2 separate regions of the Homo sapiens genome follow, and region 2 is linked to region 1. Evidence: fine-mapped QTL for protein levels in blood plasma. Region 1 holds a variant in brackets. A gene starts in the other region. All regions are shown on their forward strands.

What was found. PIP is the chance, under the fine-mapping model, that this variant and not a neighbour inherited with it causes the effect. The UK Biobank Pharma Proteomics Project read protein levels with antibody pairs (Olink). The fine-mapping took linkage between variants from a reference panel, not from the people measured, so its PIPs are less certain.
Region 2: it holds the start of BDNF, and the variant in region 1 is fine-mapped to the plasma level of the BDNF protein (UK Biobank, PIP above 0.99).

The regions. Positions count from the first base shown.
Region 1 is chr9:110,544,356-110,555,356 of GRCh38, forward strand. It overlaps SVEP1 (sushi, von Willebrand factor type A, EGF and pentraxin domain containing 1), which reads right to left. Exons shown (of 48, transcript NM_153366.4): 2 at 5,494-5,749; 3 at 1,760-1,936. Among named protein-coding and RNA genes, the nearest start is that of SVEP1, 30 kb to the right of the region's middle. The variant G/C (reference allele first, on the strand shown) is at 5,596.
Region 2 is chr11:27,689,939-27,700,939 of GRCh38, forward strand. BDNF (brain derived neurotrophic factor) reads right to left here and starts at 10,517. Exons shown (of 2, transcript NM_001709.5): 1 at 10,226-10,517. It overlaps BDNF-AS (BDNF antisense RNA), which reads left to right. Exons shown (of 7, transcript NR_033315.1): 7 at 7,540-8,233.

The DNA of each region.
Region 1 (11,001 bases):
GTTTTCCAAAACAGCTAATCATGAAAGAGCTGCAAGCTATAAAAAAAAAAGTTGCTCTTTAGGTAAAAAACAAATCCAACAAATGCTATCCAATACAGAAAAACTATGTACTACTTTAAAATATTCGATTTTCTTAAAATATAATGTAGAGCACAAGATTCCTAAGTTTCCTTTCTTGCCTCTCTAATAAGATATAAAAATATAAAGATCTTCTTATAAGAAAACCTAGAGACGGAAAAATTACAAATGTCAATGAAATAAATCCCATTCATTATTATTTTTTAATTGACGTGTAACAACTATTCACACGCATGGGGCACAGTAAGATATTTTAAAAACATGTATATAATGTGTAATGATCACATTATGACAATTACCATATCTGTCACCTCAATTATCATTTATTCGTGTTGGGAACATTCGAATCCTCTCTTCTAGCTATTTGAAGATGTACAATAAATTATTTGTTAACTATAGTCACCCTACAGTGTTATGGAACATTAAAACTTATTCCTCCTATCTAGTAGTAATTTATATCTGTTACCCAACTTCTCTTCATCCCCCATACCTTCTACCCTTCCCAGCCTCTAGGAAGCACTCTTCTCCTTTCTAATTCTACGAGATCAAATCTTAAAAATTTCCACATATGAGTGAGAACATGTGGTGTTTGTCTTTCTGTGCCTGACTTGTTTCACTTAACAACTCCAGGCTCACCCACGTTGCCACGAATGATAGGATTTCATTCTTTTTTTATGGCTGAGTAGTCTTCCATTGTGTATATAGACCACATTTTCTTTATCTGTTCTTCCATTGAATAGACCCTGAGGTTGATTCCATATCTTGGCTATTATGAATGGTGGTACAAGAAACATGCATATGCAAATATCTCTTTGACATACTGAATTCCTTTCCTTTGAATATCTGCCCAGTAGTGGGATTGCTGGATCATATGGTAGTTCTCTTTTTAGTTTTTTGAGGAACCTCCATACTGTTTTCCATAATGGCTATGCTAATTCACATTCCCACCAACAGTGTTTAAGAGTGCCTCTTTCTCTCCATCCTTGCCATCATTTGTAATTTTTTGTCTTTTTGATAGTAGTCATTCCAATTCCATTTCGAAGTGATGGCAGTTTTAGAACTTTTCAATGCACTTTTGTGGAGGCTCCTGAAGAGTTTAAAAAGCCATCAAGTGAAGGATGCATTTTTTTATGTGTAAATCTTACCAGTTACATGTGGCCTGGGGACAAGAATTCCACTGGCTTCAATCTCATAGAGAGATTGAGGCACATTTTGGTTTACATGCCTAGAGGACAGATTTGGCTGTTTTATTAGACTAATTACAAAGACCCCAAATCTTTCTCCTCCCAGTTCTGAACCTAGGCTTCAAGGGGCCTTACAAGCTTCCATTCTTCTTCTTGGAACCCTGCCGTCCCCACCTGAACAAGCCTGGGCTAGCCTGATGGAGTATGAGAGGCCACATAAAGGACAGCCTTGTTGTCCTAGACAAAGCCATTTTAGGTCAGACTATTGTCAGACACCCAAACACATAAGAGAATCCAGCTGAGATCAGCCAGCAGCCTACTCAACTCACCGCTGATGGCAAATAAATGAGTCAGCACAGCTGAAGCCCCAAAGAGATGTGCCACTGACCCCACACACTAATGAGCAATAACAAGCATGTATTCCTTATAGCCATTGCATTTTAGAATCATTTGTTACACAGCAACAGACAACTGATATACACAGATTGGAGACTCACCTGTGCATTCATACTGCAGACCTTTCCCGTAATACCCCTTTTCACAGATGCACTCAAAATGGCCTGTGTGTGTCCCACATTTGCAGCTTCCCATTCGGTCACAGCAGTCCTTGCCTTCATCACAAAGATATGAGCAGTGGACCATATCATCTTGAATAAAACTCCCAGAAGGTAGATCTACAAATAACATATGACAGAGGGCGATAAAAATGAGTCACAGTTCAATGTTACATTCTCTGGTCATTAAAATTTAAGTGCAAGCTGGAGAAAATATCTTTCCATATCCCTCTAATTCCCAACTGCTTCCTGCTCCCACCCAAATACGAATGTGTGTTATTTGTACTAGCGCGCTCTGGGAATTCGTTGAAGCCAGTTAAGTTATTCCAGTCTGGGACCTCATCATAAGTTCTCAAGGCCATTCAGGGTCAGGCAGAAATTAAGTAGTGTAGTGAGGAATCTCCAGATGCTGCAGGAAACAGTGCAGTCAGTTCTGCAGGTCATTCCCCTGGCTTCCAAAGCAGCAGCATTCCACTGCCTCTGGGTGAGGTCAGGCCCCAGCAACGAGTCCCCAGATCCTTGTTCCAATGAGAAACAAAGCCACCATCCTGATCACTGCACAGAGATGTTAATTGTGAGCCACCAACTTTGGAATAAACACTGTCACTTCTATGGTATTTGAGTAGGTAAATAAAGACCATTCTTATTACTTGAGCCATGCTCTGAAGTGAGGCATGCTGGGAATGCAATAACTCAGGCAGACCTGTTTAGAAAGTGACTTGACAGGGTGGGTAAGGTTGAATATGATTGACCCAGAATGGATGGCCTAGAATCACACAAACAGTAAGTCCTTTATTCTTTTCAAGAAGTTTGAAAGTTTTAGACTAAATTCCAATACTAGGTCCATGGGGCTCTAAGCCCAGATATTGTGATGGGCTTATAGTAGGAATTCAAGTGGGTGAGTTCCAGCAAGACACACGGGCTGCAATTGGACACCTTGGAAGGAGATTGGTGGTAGACTCAAATATAGAACATCCATCTCCATGCATCTAGATAGGGGCAAAGCAAAGGGAAGATTCCAGCCCCAAGGGAAAGAAACCAGTGCAACCAGGTACCCTGGTAAGCTCCTTCCAATAGACTGTGGTGTGGGTAAAAGATCTGTAACACAGGCCCTTAGGACTCAGCTCTGAGACACTGGACCACAGGTTTATTTGGCAGTAAAGCAAGTTAGGGAGCAAGGAAAACCTACTTGTCCAGCCTGGGTAATGCAGTGAGACCCTGTCTCTACAAAAACAATAACAATTTTTAAAAAAATTAGCTGGGCATGGTGGTACATGCCTGTTGTCCCAGATACTTGGAAGACTGAGGTGGGAGGATCACTTGAGCCTGGGAGGTGGAGGCTGCAGCGAGGTGTGATCACACCACTGCACTATATAGCCTGTGTGACAGAATGAGACCCTGTATCAAAAAGGGTGAGAAGAAAAGAAAAGACAAACATAGCTGTCAAGACTAGTGTACCAGCATTCAGGTCTGGAAGAGAGATAAGTGGAGGAGGTACAAATGGGGAAAGCTATTATTCTGTAACCTATGTCTATCGAGAATGGCCAGAAACATGAACAGCAGTGAAACCCAAAGTGGATCCATCTAAATTGAAAGTAGCTGCAGAGAACACAGAGGCAGGGGAAATGAGGCTCATTTCCTTTGATCTGATCATGTCTTTCCAGTAAAAACAGGGTTTTACTTACTAAACCTAGAAACTCAACTAAAGTATTACACATTTTAGATATTAGTTTAGTGTAATAAATGTGGTGTCTCCTAAAACCCTATTGCATTATGATAACCAAAACCCTTTCCTTGTTGACTCTAGTTTCTGGGTCAACTTCCATCAGGACAGAAGTCTCCACTCCTAGAAGACAGAGGGATGACAGGAGCTGAAATTTGTTGATAGCACTCATAATTTCATAATCCCATCTGGCAACACCCAGTATCTCCAACTGCAACCACCCTGTTTTCCCTCTTAACATATCACTTTCCTTGGAGAAAAGGAGAAATAAAGGTAGCCAGTTGCTGAACTTCTTCCATGTGCTACATACTATATTGGTGATGTTTTAAATATCTTATTTAATCCTCCTGAAAACCTCTGTGATACATATAATAATAGTTTCCATTTTTAAAGGAGAGAAAACTGAGGTTCATAGTTGTTAAATAAATTGCCTAGGGGAATTAATAATGATAATTTGTTAATAAATAATAAATATCAGTAATAGTAGACAGTTATTGAGTGCTGAGTATAACAAGCCATCAGGAACTTTCTCATCCCTTTATATGTATTAACCCATTTAATCCTTGTAACAATTTTATGAAGTAGGTACTATTCTCATTTCCTATTCTATTTACAAGAAACCTAAGGAATATAAAAGATGAATGATATGTAAAAACAAAACAAACAAACAAAAAAACAGAAAACGTCAGCTAGTAGGTAACAAAATCGGGATTTAAATCCAGACATTCTGGATTTTTAAGGCTTAGCTCTTAAAAATTAGATTTCATTAAGTTGCAGGCCTGGAACTTAGATCCAAACCTGTTTAAACGCAAATCCATACTTTATTTCCCATACTCAGTTTCTTGCTGCTTCTAAGCCCTGTCCTAAGTCCTTGCTCACTTCACTAAAATCCCAGCCTCCAAAAACTTTGGCCAGCATCATCCCTCAGAGAGATAAATCTTTTTTGCTTTATGCATGGTGGCTCATGTCTGTAATTCTAGCACTTTGGGAGGCCCAGGTGGGAGAAATGCTTGAGCCCAGGAGTTTGAGACCAGCCTGAGCAACATAGCGAGACACCATCTTTATTTATTTATTTTTTTTAAAAAGAAACTCCAGTAGAGCTAACCCACTTATTATGAACATCACTAATTTCTTAGAACTCATGTTGCCATGGTTTTCCCCTCAAACTGAATCTTTCACATGGATATCTGCAAGGATCAAGCCTAATTTGCCATATCACTTTAATCTGAGGCTAGATTTCCTGTGATTTCTTCCTAGTCTGTATTTTCTTCTCCTAGCTCACTAAGACATAAACCTATATTCTGATAGGAAGTTTAATTTATATTACACAGCTAACTTATTATAATGTATAATTATGATTTAATTTTTAAATTATAATTTATAATTAAATTATAAGTGATGCACAGAAAGCTCTAATAATGATACATTTGCTGATTTCCTTCCCTTTTAGGGTTAATGCTCTTAAGCTTTTACATAAGCATATCTATCTTCAAATGGTCAGGGCAAGAAGTATGTGTTAAGTATTTATTGTTCCTGTATCTTCATGTGTATTTCTGGAAACATTCTGGTAAGTTTCACTGAGCATGTCTCTGAATGTTTACTTCCTCTGTCCAGATAACTGTAAAGAGATCTAAGTCAAGGCTTCCCACTCTGTGTGTGGCCTCAAAACACACCTAAATTCATTCCACTGATTCTAAGGTGGGAGCATATGGATATTTTAGTGAAAACACATAACAGCTGCTAAGAAAAAAAACAAAAGGAACTCTTGTTGCAAGGTCAGAATGTCATCTCTGTGAAGTTCAGCACATTTCATGATGCCCAAAGGACACATGGGCATCATATTCAGCAAAGACCTTGTGAGAGTTTGATATTACCCTCCCATGGGTTTCAAGCAGTGAGAGGCAAGGAAGCCTCATTTAAAAGTACCTTTGTGATGCCATTAGGTTTCCATTACCTTCATGCAATGCCCGGCGAGCTAAAGCCTCAAATTCTTCAAAACTGTGTAGCAGGTAACAGTGCTCCTCCTTTGGGGTGGAAGCCATGTCATTCAGCTCTC[G/C]AATGTTCCCTTGCCATATGCCAAAAGTGAAGATCTCCACTCCTGAATCTCGCAGTGACGCTGCAATTGGTCTAGGGTCTCCCCCATTGGAATATCCATCAGTGATGAGAAATACAACTTTTGTTGAGTTTTCTCTAGCATGAAGAAGAATTTGCTGTAATGAAATGGGGAAAGTTAATATGAGTGTGTACTGTCTTGCCTACTGTGTGCTTCTCTTCTTACGTAAGGCAGTACTTGCAAAGATCATTAGTATTTCACAGGCATGAGGGATGGAAGCCCTAGTCAGAGTAAAACAGAAATAGGCACAGATGAGAGCCTACAATGATCTTCTCACAGAGCCACAATAAACCTCAAAAGCATTTAAAAACTATCATCCTCATCAACATTGCTGATGGAGCTTGCTAATGAAGTACAACAAACACTTATGGAATGAATTTTTAATCAATATTATCACTTATTATTATATTATTTTTATTGATTCTCAGGCTCTCAAAATATGAACAAAATCTGAATCCAAATTCCACAAATTATCTATCTATCTATCTATCTATCTATCTATCTATCTATCTATCTATCTGTCTATCATCTCTATCCAAACCACTGCATGGTCATACACCAAAATCCTAATGGGAAGGAAATTTAACAGAACATGTCTTTTCCAGAGTCAATAATGGCTGACCTGCTTCCTATATTTGTTTTTCCACTTGCTCCTCCAAAAAATGTAGAATTGATTCAATACTTCATCTTTTTGGACCACCCGGTACTAGCATAAAAATAGCTAGTTTTGGTGGTATCCAGAAATACTGATTCACTAAATCTGACACTGGGACTTTATTATTTTAGGACAAGTGAATTCTGTTTTACAATGATATATGCTCTTCCTTCTCTACAGATAGAATTTTAAAAAATGAAACCTTTTAAAAAGACATTTATATATTGCCATTGATGCTTTGTAACACCAGACTATAAAGGCACAAGAACTCCAGTGGTGAATCTGGCATTTAATTCAATTTGCTGTTGTTGCTTTTCACTACAGATGAGTAGAAAAGATAAAGAAGCACCAGGGTATATTTTCTGGTAAGTTCTTAGAAGAAATTCCTATTAAAAAATAAATTAATTTTTAAAAAAGAACTTCATGTTTATTCCGCAAGAATTCAAGAAACACTACATGTTTTTCAGAAGGTAGGCAGGAAGAGTGACAACTGCATCCTATGTTGTGTTAAAGTGAAAAGGAGATATTGTGATTTTTAAAATGTTTGATACAATTCACTTTAGGGTGCAGACTCACTATAAGATCCAGATTCTCTCAGACTATGAGATCCAGATTCTCTCAGACTATGAGATTCATGTCCGTAGAAAGCAATCTTCATTAGTATATAATCAGTGGGTATTCATTACAATTCAATAATTCTTACCTAAATTTAGTTAGTGTTTGTGAGGCAAAGCTAAAGCTGCTAAACCTGAATTTAAGGAAAATTAAATGAAACTAACAATGCCTCCAGAAATATCTGGAAAGCCAGCAGTTTGAGAAGAGGTATTCAAACATTTCACCACACTCTTTCTCAAAAATCAAATGAGATCAAGGAAAATCGTACAGATGGGACCACACCAAAGACAGGCACAGAGGGTGGCTTCTGCGACGGAGTAGCATTCGGGACGTTACTGGAGACATTCCCCAAATAAACACACCAAGAAGCCCAATCAACACTCTCAAAATTCTTGGCTCTTAAAGTTTAAAAAGCTGCCCTCTTGATGAATGACAGGAAGATTTGGAATGAATGCTTGGTAAGTGTGAAATTTTTCCACACTCCAGAGAAGAAAAAACCTCTGAGGAGAGGAAGAGGGAAAGAGTTAGGGGAGAATGAGAAATGTGAGATGTTGCTGTGAGACCCTGAACTCTCCACACTCTCTCCACACCCCTAACTCTGTCACAGAAGAGATGATTGACAAGCCTCCCTTTAGGCATAGAGGTCCCCAGGTCCTCTTTCCATCTGGATATCTGGGATGGTGGTACATCCCAAAGAAGTGCCCTTGGTCATAATGACAGCGGACAATAGAGCAGTGGTACCCAACCTTTTTTTTTTTTTTTTTTTTTTTTTGAGTCAGAGTCTCACTCTGTCACCCAGGCTGGAGTGCAGTGGTGCGATCTCGGCTCACTGCAACCTCCGCCTCCCAGGTTCAAGCGATTCTCCTGCCTCAGCCTCCCGAGTAGCTGGGACTACAGGCACATACCACCATGCCCAGCTAATTTTTGTATTTGTAGTAGAAACAGGGTTTCATCATGTTGGCCAGGATGGTCTTGATCTCCTGACCTCGTGATCCACCTGCCTCAGCCTCCCAAAGTGCTGGGATTACAGGCGTGAGCCACCACGCCCTGCCACATGAGCCACCACGTCTGGCCAGTCCCCAAACTTTTTGGCACCTGGGACCAGTTTCCTGGAAGACAATTTTTCCATGGAGTGGAATGGGGCTGGAGGACAGTTTCAGGATGATTCAAGCACATTATATTTATTGTGCACTTTATTTCTATTATTTTTACACTATAATATAGAATAAAATAATTATACAACTCACTATAATGTAGAATCAGTGGGAGCACTCAACTTGTTTTCCTGCAACTAGATGGTCCCATCTGGGAGTGATGGGAGACAGGGACAGAGTGCACAACTTAGATCCCTCGCATACAGTTCACAATAGTGTTCACGCTCCTATGAGAATCTAATGCTGCCGCTGATCTGACCGAAGGCAGAGCTCAGGTGGTAATGCTCACTTGCCCACTGCTCACTTCCTGTTGTGTGGCCCAGTTCCTAACAGGCCATGGATCAGCATCAGTCCACGGCCTGGGTACTGGGGCCCCCTGCAGTAGAGTAAAACTACTCCATTGGGTGGTAAAGGAGAGGGCACCTGAAGAAGCTTATGTATTCCAGAGAGGTATAGCAGAGAAAGAATCAATGCAATTTTAAGACACCTGAAGGAGTCTTGCAATAATAAAGGTATGGCAGTAGATGACACCACAGACCTTGTGAGCCAAGAAGAGATGTGTCTCTCTTGGGCAATATCCATGGGAAGAGATCCTGGAAGCCGCAGGAGATAGCTGCATTAAAGGTTATGAAACTAACCAACAGACATGCGGATGACCAACAAAGACCATCATGACTATTGATGAGACAACTGGGCATCTCAGAGGATGGCAGCACAGGACATGTCAGAGCTGAGAGGTAAGTATCTCTTCCTTTGCTGTAACTTTGCCCAAGCCCCAGAGCTTCACGTCAACTACAGGGAGGAAGGGAAGAGGTAATATTTCTCAACGTGACTTTGTTTTCAAAAGTGCAGTGCTTGAGAGCCTTCTGATTTTGAGTTTGCTTAGATGTGCCTACGTGAGGTTTCTGTCATCAGGAGAACTGGGGTCACAAAATGTAAATTAAATTTAGTATTGGGGAAATAGAGATTAAAAAATTTTAATCAGCAGATAGTGAATTTGTTTATCTTTTACAAACACAGTTTCTCTTCCTGATGAAACCCTGTGATATCTTGGAAAGTAAATAGAGAAAACTTTTTGGAATCCTGCCATCACCACCTATTTAGAAGGAGAGGCAAGGGCTAGAGATGAAGGCCAAGGCTGGGAGAGAAGGAGGTCACTTTAACCCCTCTGCGACACAGTTCAAAGATATCCAGGGGAGACAGGCCCAGGTATTTCAAGGCCAAGGATGGCTTCAAACAGAAGCCCAGTCTTCTCCCTAACTGTAACTTCCTTGAAGGCAGGTATTTTTGTGTATTTTTTAAAGTCATAAAAACCCAGAGACTAGAACAGTGCTTGACAAATGATACGCGCTTAATAAATATTTGTCACTAAGGAGTGGCCCATCGTGCAGCAATTCTTCCAGTTGCTCGAGCAAAAACCTTGGAATCATCCTTATCTCCTGTGTCTTCCTGTATCTTGCTTTAAAAAGTTTCCCCACCGCAAGCCTATTAAATATTCTCACATACTTTTCCTTAATGCTTATATTTTTAAAATATTTCTTAAGTCCAAATAGATATCTTTTGTCTTTGCTGTGACATAGAGACTACTTTTACTTTTATTAAACAGGATAAGCAATTTTCCTGCAAATTATTTACTGATTAAACTGTTCTTTCCCTGGGTATAATCTCTGCATCCAGGTTACTTGCTCTACTTGCTTATTCTTGGCCTACACCACCCGTCTCGGCTGCTATAGCTTTATACTATTTTTTTTTGTATCTGGTAAGGAAAGTCTACCACCTTTTTTTCTCTCTATTAAAATGTTTGTGGTTAACTTTGATTTTTTCTTTTCCAATAGAGCTTGAGAGTCTGCTTATGAAATTCTTCACTAAAATGTTTCTATCTCATCATTTGATCCAGTAATCCCACCTCTAGGAATCTATCCCAAAGATACACTGGCAGATACACAAAAATGGACAGACCAAGGACCAGCCCCAGTAGAAATGGGCATCTCTAAAGCCCCCTACTGTGGTCTCCAAATACTATTACCCACTAAAAGGAACCAGGAATTGGTGAAGAAATGGTTGATTTTAGGTCTATGGCATGGAATGTTCAAAATGAGTTTGCAACATCCTCTCATGTCAGAAAACAAAGATGCTGTTCAAGAGCCCTAAAAACATGCCCAGAAGAATCAGGAGCCAGCCTGAAGAGGCTCCTTCTGGCAAAATAAAGGTCATTTTGAGTATCAATAAAAATAATTGAAATGGATTTAAATGTATCAAGTATAATATAGACATTTATGTGTATGTATAGATGTGCGTGTGTGTGTGTGTGTGTGTGTGTGTATGTATGTATTTACATTTTCAGTTAGTACACATTCCAGGGGAAAAGTGTTATTGACATAAATAATACTTGGAACAAAGTGAAATATGCATACACAAATACACACACATTTTTGTTGTTGTTGTTCAGAACCACCTTTGAGGAAAAGTCCAATTATCTGTTATGATTGAGATGAAATGAGACATTATTTGTCTTTAAAATTATACTTTTCCATATTCGAAGGGTAACTCCTAGTTGTAGTATGCCAAGAGGTGGAAAGTTGTGTTTACACCATCCTTGCTCTTTACCAAGTAATAAACTTGCTTTCTGTCTGAGTTGTTCCCCTCTGAAGTCACAGTCTCACCTCCACGGACACCCACCCTAAGCTTGTGCTCATTTTGATTACTGCTTCTTCTACAAGGTCACAGCAGTTAACTGTAAGCAAGACATTAAAAACGTGAGAATTTTCCTAGAAAGGAGGAGAAGTGGGGAAAAAAAAAAAAAAGGAAATTGTCTCTTCAGTGTGATATTCTCAATAGTGCCGGGCACAGAGTACATGTTCATAACTATTTCTTCAATGAATGAATGAATGAATGAGTGCAGTGGATAAACTACAGGATAGTCTG
Region 2 (11,001 bases), not on the chromosome of region 1:
CTGTTCAGCTCCCACTTATGAGTGAGAACATGCAGTGTTAGGTTTTCTGTTCCTGGCTACCAAGTTTAAGAAAGTCATTGTCAGGGATGTGAAAATCAGAAAAATAATCTGGTATTTTAGGAAAAGCACTTAAAATAAATTGTATTAATGACACCACATTTTAATGATTAATAAAATACTTGATAAGGCAATCCTGTATTAATATTCAACCATTTATACATGATTATTTCTAAACATTATACAATGCAAAAAAATTCACATGTTTAAAGAAGTATCTACTTTATCAGGTACCATTTGTGAATACTCTCAACAAGCAGGTGAATACAACTCTCAATGCAAGTGAATATACACAGAAATGGGCAGCAGGATGGTCATTTGCCTGTCTGTCTTGCTTGGGAGTAAAAGAGAAGGCTAGGAACATGGCTGTAGGTTTGGTACTAGAAGAAAAGTGGGACCTATTCCGACTTCCTGATCCTGTGATTTTTTTCTTTTTTTGAGATTCACACACACACACACACACAAACTATGCACAAGTTTGCTTCCATGTTGTATAGCAAGAGTTTAAATATTTCTGAGTTAATGATGCCAAACTGTGCTCCGATTATATCAGCATATTTACATGATCCTTGAACACCACATATAGATTCCTATACTACACATTTAAGCAAAATCACCTCCTGACTTCACAATGAAAGAGACCTATTGGATTAAAAAGTGGTTTCTAGTAAACCCCAAAGAGATACTGTTACTAAATTACTAAATTTAAAGGCAAAATAGTATTCACTAAACTGATTTTTCTGTCTTATTTTCCTTATTTGGCATAATCATTAACCAACTTCTAGTAAATGGAAGCATTCTCACAATTTAAGTTTTTTTAGGGGGAAACACACAATTTATAAATACTGTCAAGTGAAGAACAGATTCCTGAATACTAAAAGACCCATGCATATCCTTGTATGTAAAAAAAAAAAAAATCCATCATAAAATCATAGACTCAAACACCATCTTTGATTCAGTAGTTCTCCCTCTACTGTGGCTTCTGCTATAGAGTCATTGTTAAAAAGAGTTCTTCATGAAAGATTCTCACATAGCAAAATGCTTTAAGAAAATGTCTAACAAACATTTTTATTGTCTCAATTTGTACACAAACTGACACCTGAAAATCAGAGAGGATAAAGAACTTCAATCTTTAAAAAAGAGAGGTAAGTTATTCCAAAATGCTACCAGTCAATAATTAAAAATACAGTTTGGGGGCAAGAAGTTCTGAAATAACTCAGAGAACTTGCTCAAGATTTTACTTTTGGACCAGTCCTCTTTGGGAGGGAGTATGTGAATAGGTAATGAAAGCCTTATATGAGAGAGTCAATGGAGAGCCATATCAAGGAGCACCTGAAGATATATGGATCAATACAGGGAAAAGAAATCCAAGTAGCCCAGTGCCTGACACTCACTGGGCACTCAATTAATGCACGGTGAATTAACAAATGAATTAATGAAAGAACCATTTGCTACATATAACATTCTTACTTTAAGAAAAAAGAATTTGAAACAGAAGAAAACATACACGCAAGAACACATACAAACTATAAACTATATGATATCCTAAAGGAGATGTAAATATTAAACTGTTTGCTTTGCTGACTGACACTATTAATACCTAAAAGCAGTATGAGAGATCACAAAGAATAAGTACTCATTCATACTTGGAGTGGGCTGCTCATCTTATGGTCTAACTTGCATTTTATGTCATGGCCATGTTGCTTAATCTCCAGCTGTTCTACAGAAGAGCAAAATAAGTTATAAATAAATTATTAAAGAAAAAAAGTAACTCTATCCATGCTGAGGCCTGAGGGAGTTGGGGGAGGAGTCAATTCCTTTTAGTTTATATTTAAAAAGAGAAACTCTTTGGAAAACTGTAATATCTGAAGATTTTGTGGTTTCCAAAAGTGAAGGTGAACGGTGAGAAGTTTTCTTAGTTTAGCTACTGAACCCTAAAAAAATATAACCTCAAAAGTTAATTTCTTAAGCAATTTGGGCACCTGAATTTGATAAGAACTTTTTTTTCCAGACATTCTGTTCTGTCTAACCCAAAGGAAAAATAGCCAATTTTGAGAATCTGTATACAAATAAGGAAAAGTAAAATACAGCGCTTTGCAAAGAAATGGGAGGGATTTCTGATACTCAATTCATGATGCTAAACACTTCAAGTAGATGATTCAAAGGCAGAAATATATAACTGTTCTCATTAGGATTGTTTATGGACTATAAATAAGGAGCAGACTTATGGCCAATGCATTAGAAAAAAACAAGTACAAAGGCACTTCAGAAAATACCTTACTCCAACCTCCCATTTTAGTGTCATTTCTAAAAGGGTTTCATTTCAGCCTTCCTACCTTTCTTCCTTCCTTCCCTTCCTTCCCTCCAACGGGGTCTCACTCTGTCACCCAGGCTGAAGAGCAGTGGGACAATCACGGCTCACTGCAGCCCCAACCTCCTGGGCTCAAACGATCCTACTGCCTCAGCCTCCCAAGTAGCTGGGACTACAAGTGCCTGTCACCAGGCTTGGATAATTTTTTTTGTCTTTTGTAAAGATGGGGTCTTGCTATGTTGTCCAGACTCGTAATGATCTCCTGGGCTCAAGTGATCCTCCCACCTCAGCCTCCCAGAGTGCTGGGATTACAGGCATGAGCCACCACACCAGACCTCTTTTTTCTTTATTATATATTCCTCTAATAAAGTGCTCTGTATGCAGTGAGCATTCAATATTTGCTAAATTAAATTAATGGAAAGTTTTCTAACTACCATGTAGAGTATCTAAATTTACATCATTGGTTCTAGAACTGCTGTCTGAAGCAACACAAATTACACTTATGACAGTTCGTCAAATCTTTGAAGCCCATCCTCAAAATAAGGATGTCAAAAATACATCACACATGTTGACACTCTAATCTCCCAGCCACAGTAGGCATTAGCAATCTGAATGTTATTTTTACTAATCCTTCACAGTTTTAGAATTCTTCTCAACCCAACATTCAAAAACCACTTGCCATTCCAGCCTAAGTTTTCTTGTCCCTAAGTCATGCATTCCAAGTCCCCTCAACCATTGCTCACATGCAATGCTTTCAAATTCCCTATGCATCCTGGTCACAGTGATTTGAATGTACACTAATTTATCGATGATGTACCTAAAACAACTTATTTCATTTCCTTGAACTGATGATAATATTCTAGATACAGTCTATTTAAAAAGTGAAGAATTATTAGCTTCTCCATTTCAGTATTATATTTCTAGCAGTGCAGCCCAAAATTTCAGTAGCTATGATAACAGCCTCTTGTCACACCACTGGCTTATACTGAACTTGCAGTTAATTTAAAACATTCAAGCTTCCTTTCTACAATCTGCTGATAAGTCATCCCCTAAAACCGTGCCCGCAACTCTCTATTCTCTCCTAAATTGATTTTTTTGTACTTAATCATAGTATTTTACATTTAAGTAAATGTAAATGATCCAGATTCTATCATTCAACAGAATGTCTGCAATATCTGCTGGCTTTATGTTTCATATGATAAGCATATCGTCTGTGCCTTCAGACACATTATCAGCCAACATGTCGGTGCTGGATGTATTTTCCCAATGTTGCATAAGAGGAATACCTTCGAGAGTTTGGCCTAGGAATGTGGCCTGGGACTCCGCCAAGCATCTCTCTCCAGCAAAATGACTGCAAATTTCTCGACCTTCAGATTCTACATGATGTAAAAGAAGTTTGTCTGTGTTTAAAAACACATTCAAGAAATAAGTGAACATGTGAAAAGACAGAAAAACTTGTTTTAATTTGGGCATAGTTTCAGTTTTCAAAGGCACATGAAGGCAGAAAGAAAGAATCACAAAATGGAACTACTGATGATAGCAACTCCAAAACCAAGACTGATTAGACTAAATCCCATGTGGCAAAAATTTTATTTAGTAAGTTTCCTTCTCCCTCTCTCCCTTTAGATATATGTGCATACACACACACGCACCTTTATTTTAGTAATTTTTTTTTTCTGAAAAAGAAAGTTTTCTGCACCTGATTGCTTCCATGAATAACACAAAGCACAAACAATATGACTTTCTTTGGTTATCATGCAATTTTTTCTCTGCTTACCAGAAATTGGCACAAATTTAAGATATACTATATTCTACTCCCTGAAGCACAGTCGCTGGCATCTCCACTGGCATTTAAAAATTTGAAGACATTTAAAAGAAAATCCACAAGCTTATAGTTGCTGTCTAAATCAACTTTAACATTTCATATATTCACAATTTCATAAGTGAATCAAATTACACATAAGAAATTATAGAACTAAGCCAACTAAATGACTTTTATAATAGGTACTGGGGAAAAATATTATTAAACCTTTTCCTCCAATTTCTGCCTTTCTTCCAGCAAGACAAACCATTTTCATGAAGTTTCTGTCTACATCACTAGTGATAATCTGAAGCAGCCATTAATCAATCTATTAGTGCATTCAGCAACATTTATCAAAGTGCCTCCCCAGAACTGTTTTGGATGCTGTTGTGGGCGCATGCAAAAATGAACTAAATATAGATTTTTGTCATCCAAGAATTTTAAGTCAATTTGTAATTATTGGTTCCTGGTTCCATAACTTTTTTTTTTTTTTTTTTTGGTGCTGGCTCAGATGTATACCTTCATCTATTCTAAGGTTAAGGCAATCCTTATAATTTTCTTCCTTTTTCTTGTTTGTTTGTTTTTTGTGTGTGTGTTTAAAATCTTGCTTATATTTGACTTTATTTTATTCTCACATCTTCTGAGTACATTAAAGTTAAAGGTAGATCATAAATCGAAAACATTCTTAAAGGTCTCTCTACTCAAATTATTTGGTGTTATTGTATCTCAGAAAGTATAATGAATTGCCTGTAGCAAATAAATAAAATCAGAACCTTTATACTCAATGGTTCGGTTTGGTACATATCCATGAAAATAATAAATGTTAAAAAGGATGCTAGCCGTTGATTCCTGGCATGCTATTCTACATTTGGCTACATTACAACGTTAAAAGGATTTAGTGCATATATCAAATTGTGGATCTGCTTGTTTTAAAATTTCATCTGTAATTCCACATGCAACCCCCACCCCCATACACACTCACAAGATCTGAATATGGTAACAAGGAAATCCTAGTAACTGTAGCGTTGGAAAAATGGTTCATATGGAAATAAGCCATTTGGCTAGTAAAGCTGGTGATTTTGTTCTCTAGGTGGCACTATTACTTCAATTTTTGGTGAGTTGCTTAAATTACTTGGAACTGCCCGTTTATTTTCTTTGAATTCCCATTTTATAAATTTTAATTTTATACAAGCTAGTTGTAATTAAACGACAGGTTGCCTTCTAGGTTTTATTTCAGTAAGTCAATTTGAAGTTCAGTGATTTTTTATCATATAATTTTATGTTTCCTTACTATACTGTCTTAGTTTTAAGAAATCCTCCCTTGCCTGACCTCCTCTCTCCAAAAATGCAGAGGCATGTCAAAAACACAGAGGGTCGTCATAAAGTTTCCGTCAGACCAAAGGAACCAAGATGAAAGCATGTTTAAGAGCTACTAGGTTCTGGGAGATTTCAAAATCAGGACATTACTACCATGACAACCAATGAAAAGTTCTTTCAAGTGAACCTTTGGGGAAAACTATATAACGTTCCTTACTCTCTAGGCTCTCTGGAAATAAACTTTTACTTTATTATGGCTGTCACTAAAGCTTGTAAATTTACTTTGCTTCCTTCCAATCGTTCTCCTGTCCCACACTCAGCCCCCTAACTCACTTAATGCAACCCATCCTCAAACATCAATCTATAAATGAGACATCAGGGCAATGAGCCACTTCTTAGCATCTAGTATATTTGATAAGATTTGTCTCATCAAGAGGATAAGTGCCCTAGAGCTTCTACTTGAACTTAAATACTTAATTTAAATGAAAGCTTCCACACTTATCTGACCAGATACTCAAATTTTTCTACAGAAAAGAGAATACCTTCCTGTTCCACTTAAAGAACACACACATTTACCACTCCCCCTCCTCTCCCCTGCAAAAGGTTTTCAATGTCAGTACATTAGTGAGCTCCATTTTGCATCTGCCATCAATAATGATTCCATATAGTCAATAATTGGGTTCATGACCTTTCTAAATCTTTACAGTGTAAATATTCTGGAAATCCAGTGAGGCACTTAAGTATAAAATTATTTAGGATTAAATAATTCTATGCCTTAAGTAGAAGTTTAAGAGGACGTTTAGGACACACATGACTAAGCCTACAAATACCAAAGCCACTCTATGTTTCCTAGGTTTAAATACCACATGCAAATAACATACGGATTTCATTTGCCAGCATCATTTATTGCCTAACATTACTCCATACTAAACAGAGTAAATGGATGCAGAGTGTAACCAGTAAGTTTGCTCATTCACTTTTGAAGCTCATCTGTGCATGTTATTCATCCTAATAAAGAAAATTTATCACAACACAACTTGATGCGATTCTTGTTCAAATGATTTCCTCTTCCATTGAACAACAGCCAGCACTTAAAACCTAGAATTCCACAGAATTCTCTCCTCGATTCCTCTTTAAAATGCAATTCACAGTTTGAGATCACAGAGCCTGCCAGTGGCTGAATGGCTGCACTAGATGGCTGAGAGTCCTTCAATTAAGCAACAATTTTGCAATTAGTGGAAACTGAGTGCTCTATAACAATTGTTTGAAAACAAGTTGAGACAAGTTAGCAATTACCCTATAAAAGGGACATATTCACTTTTGTTGGATAGGCGAGACCCCTCACACAAATTGAACTCTTCCACACAGGGAGATGCAAGTTGAAAATTAATGTTTTAATCACTAAAATCAAATCCATATTATGGGCACCTGAAATGGGAGTGCCTTTCTTCTCAAAAGATATTCAGAGTTTAGCTATCATCCACTCTCTATGCTGTCTGTTTTTATTCAGGAAGTCTGAAATTGTTCTTCTGTACTCCGGGATTAATTTCCTACATCTCAAAATGTTAATAAACTACTTGAACATGACCTTTCCATTCTGTAAATTTCCTTAAGAGTAAGTCTACGATTGAGACCCAAAGCTGCTGGCTGTGTTATATTTCACAGTTCACAGTTCTCTCTCTCTCTCTCTCCCCCTCTACACACACGCGCACGTGCACGCACACACACACACACACACACAGAGAGAGAGAGAGAGAGAGAGAGAGAGAGAGCACCCCAGGTTTTAGAAGATGAATGTAAAAAGAATGTAAACAAGTTCTCTGCTATACTATCAGGTGGGCGTGCCCAGCTCACTGTGCGTGCTGAACTACAAACCAGTGCTATTCATATAAGAAATGATATCAATCATCTACATTTTGACTATTGAAAAGCTGGGACTCTTAAAGATTCCAGGAAAAAGGGAATAGCTTACATTTTCATGGCGCCCCTTTTAAACAGGAAACCCACGGACTTTGAGCCAGGATTTTAGAAATTTGCATTTCTTTTTTTACAGGATTTTCCCTCCTGGTGAGTCAAAATGAACAAGAAATACCCCAGGACCTCCCTTCCCTCCTTGGCCATTAATGAGATGAAGGCAATTAACTCACATAGTATAAATGAATCATTTGAGGTGATGACTGCATTTTAGGCAAATGATGACTTTCTTGGTTCCATTGGTTTGCAAGTAAAAGTTACACACATTGAAAAGACACTGAAACAGATTTCCTAAATGCTTCATTTTCTGGATGCACCAATGTTGACCTACTATACATGTTAAATGGTTTTAAAATATCACCTTAAAATAAAGGAAACTTCCAGCTACTAACTCAGCTCTGAATGGGCTATGAAAGGCTCCAAAGGTATGTGAAAAATTACTGTTATTTTGCTTTAAAAAATGTGATGTCTAAGAGTGTCTGCAATGTTCTAATGCTTCAAAACATGTACGTAAGCCTTGTTTATCTGGAAATCATTTCTTTCTGCTTATATCATTTATAAATAGAAAATGTTCTGTAATAACTTAAAATAGTTCCACATACATAATGCTTTTAGTGTCATAATACTTACTACTGGTCTATATTTACCAACATTTATCACATTTTACAAAATGAAGTAGAAGAAAAAAAAGACAACGACTTTATGGCCCTGGAATTCCAGTAATGGTGACCAACATGTTTTAAATTCCAGTAAAGGTTATGGTTACATTTCAACAAGTGTCTCTTTCCTTTTTTTTACCTCTCCTGCTAACCCAGAGGTAAATTTCCCAAAAAAAAAAAAAAAAAAAAAAAAAAAAAAGTCTTAAGCAAGGCATTTGCAAAATCAGAAAACAGGAACAGGAGTTTAGTGATTGTTTTTAAAAGGTGCTGTTCCCAGGGTCAAAACTTTGTGGTGTAATTTCAACATGCTATGTTACCTATTATGTGTAATGCCTTGAAACGCTACATGCCATAACATCAGAAATCTCCAACCTAAAAATTATGTTGCATGAGATAAGCATTGAAGGCACACACGTTCATACAAATTAAATCTGTAATTATGCCTCAATAAGTTAAAATGTAAAGACATATCAAATTGTAAGACCAAAATGGCTTTTGACCTTACAACAAACTCATATAAAAATAGATTTTTCCATAATAATAAAGGGGAGAGAGAGATTTTGCAGGATATTGAGTCAGTAGGGAGGGGTCTCATTTAATATCATGTCGCCTTTTATATGCAGTTAGAAAATCAACGTTCCCAATTACATATTACTTTGCTTTAAAAGATTACTAGGAGGATTAATAAACACTCAGAAATATGCCTTTCTTTGCTTCTGGCCAAGAACATTCCTGCGTGCTTGTCGGAAAATGTTCTTTGGTTGCTACTGACATTAAGGAGTAAGTGCAGGATAACTAGAGGACCCTAAAATAAGATCCAAGAAGCCCTAACACACCGCCAATCGAGGCTTATCAAAGCTCCCCCAGCGCGAGGAAAACTTGCATAGAAGCCAAACAAGAACGAGGAGTCAAAATCCACCGACGACGAGTCGCACGCCCCACCGAGCTGGAGTCAGCAGCACCATTCAACAAGTCCCTCCTACCAGCTCTCTAAGGGATCCCGCAAAACCTTCCTTTACCACTTCCCCACCCCCAGCCTCCCGCCCCCAGTAGCTGCTCTTGGCAGCATGGCCGGCAGAGGGCACCCTCTACCTTCCCTAGCTTCGTTCTCTGGGTCCCCTCCTCCTCCTCGCCTCCCCTCCACCCCGGTCCCTCATCCCCGCTCTACCCCCAACACACAAACACTGCATCCTCCAGTTCACCCTCGCAGCCCCGAGGCTTCTTCCTTAGGGATGCCCCTAGTCTGTAATCTCCCCTTCTTCTTGCCCGTCAGGCACAGAGCCCCCAATCCTCAGCTATTTCTTTCCAGGAGTAACTCACTCACCCATTCCTCTTCCCGGCTCTGCATCCCCAGAGACTAACCCGAGTCAAGAATCCCCCACGTACATCCCAACCACTCCCCGAAAGTCAAAACTCTTAACTTCCCTGGAGGGCGCTTCAGAAGAGGGGCGCAGGATGGGTAGAGATGTGGGTTCGGCCTGCCCGAGAGTGTCGCAGACCCTTTCAGTTCCCAGCGGTAGGAATTCCGCCTCCCAAGTTTTCCAAGCTACATTGGCTTCGGACTTGTAAGTCCACTTCAGTCTCAATTCCTGGGGAGCAGGTAGCCGTGTGCAGCTCCGGGGAAGGGATGCGGGCTGAAGGCGCAAGCTTCCCTCCCACTCCCCCCGCAAGTCGGCGCGGGGACCACCCACCCCCTGGAAGGATTCCTAGCCTAGCCCCAGCACCCTCCCCTCAGTCAGGACCCTCGACAGCTCTGGCCCCCTAAGTCTCTCTCGACTACTCCTGGGCTGGGGGAGGGCTGCGAGGGATCCCCGGGTCGCCGTCTTTGCTCCCATCACGCAGCTCTGGGTCTCCTCCAGGCCTTCCCTCCTCTACTTCGTGACTTCCCCGGGTCCCTTTTTCCCTGGTGGTGCCGGCTGACCTTCTGGGTTGTGGGATGGGGGAGAAAACTCCCCAAGAGTAACTCCAAATCGTCCCTTCTACCGGAGGGGAGGAAAGAAGGAGACTGGCCTCGTCCCACAACTTTGGGGTGGGGGATCCCCCAGTCAACTCTCTCCCGCGGACGGGCAGCTCCTGCACCAAGCCCCATTCCCAGCGCTTGCCTACCTCGGGGTCCACACAAACCTCACGGGTCCCCGGCGGCGGAGTCACATCGTGGTTCCGATTCTGGCTCCAGCGCCCAGCCCCGGTCCCCGTCGCGGTGCTGCTCCCCGCCGGCCCCACAGCAGCGGTGGGTGTCTCATTAAAGCCCCCCGAGCAGGAGGTGGAGGGGCGCACCGGGCTGGCTCCTCTGTCCGGCCCGGGAGCCCGAGGCGCTACGGGGTGCGCGGGACAGCGAGCGGGCGGGTGCGCCCGGGCGCGGCGGCGGCAGCGTCGGGGACCCGGAGCTCCAGGCTGCGCCTTGCGCCCGGGTCAGACATTATTTAGCTCTTCGGTTGAGCTTCGATTGGTCAAACGGCGCCGCCCCCCCCCCCCCGCCCCCCGCCCCCCGCTCCCCGCTCGCCCGCGCTACCGATACCCGTTCGAGGCGGCCGCTTAAAGGGAACGCCGCGTCTTTTCCTCGCGCGGGGAACCGAGGGGCGCCCGGAACTCCCCGCTCCCCCGGGGCCTGTCCTCACCTCCTCCCCTAGGGCCCCGCGACATCGCCCTGCGAGTCCTGCGCCCTCCTGGGGCGCCTTGGACAGGACGCCCGCGGCTTCGAGGGGTGTTCCAGCCCCAGCCTCAGCCCCGGGGAACCCCGCGTCCCGCGCCCTCTGCAGAAACCCCGGCTGTGGGCGCTGGGGCGGGAGGGAGCGAGTGAGAATCGCACGCCCCGAGGTCTCGCTCCCCTAGCTTTCAACTCTCCCCTTCCTCCCCATCCCAGCACCCAAGTTCTCTGGGAG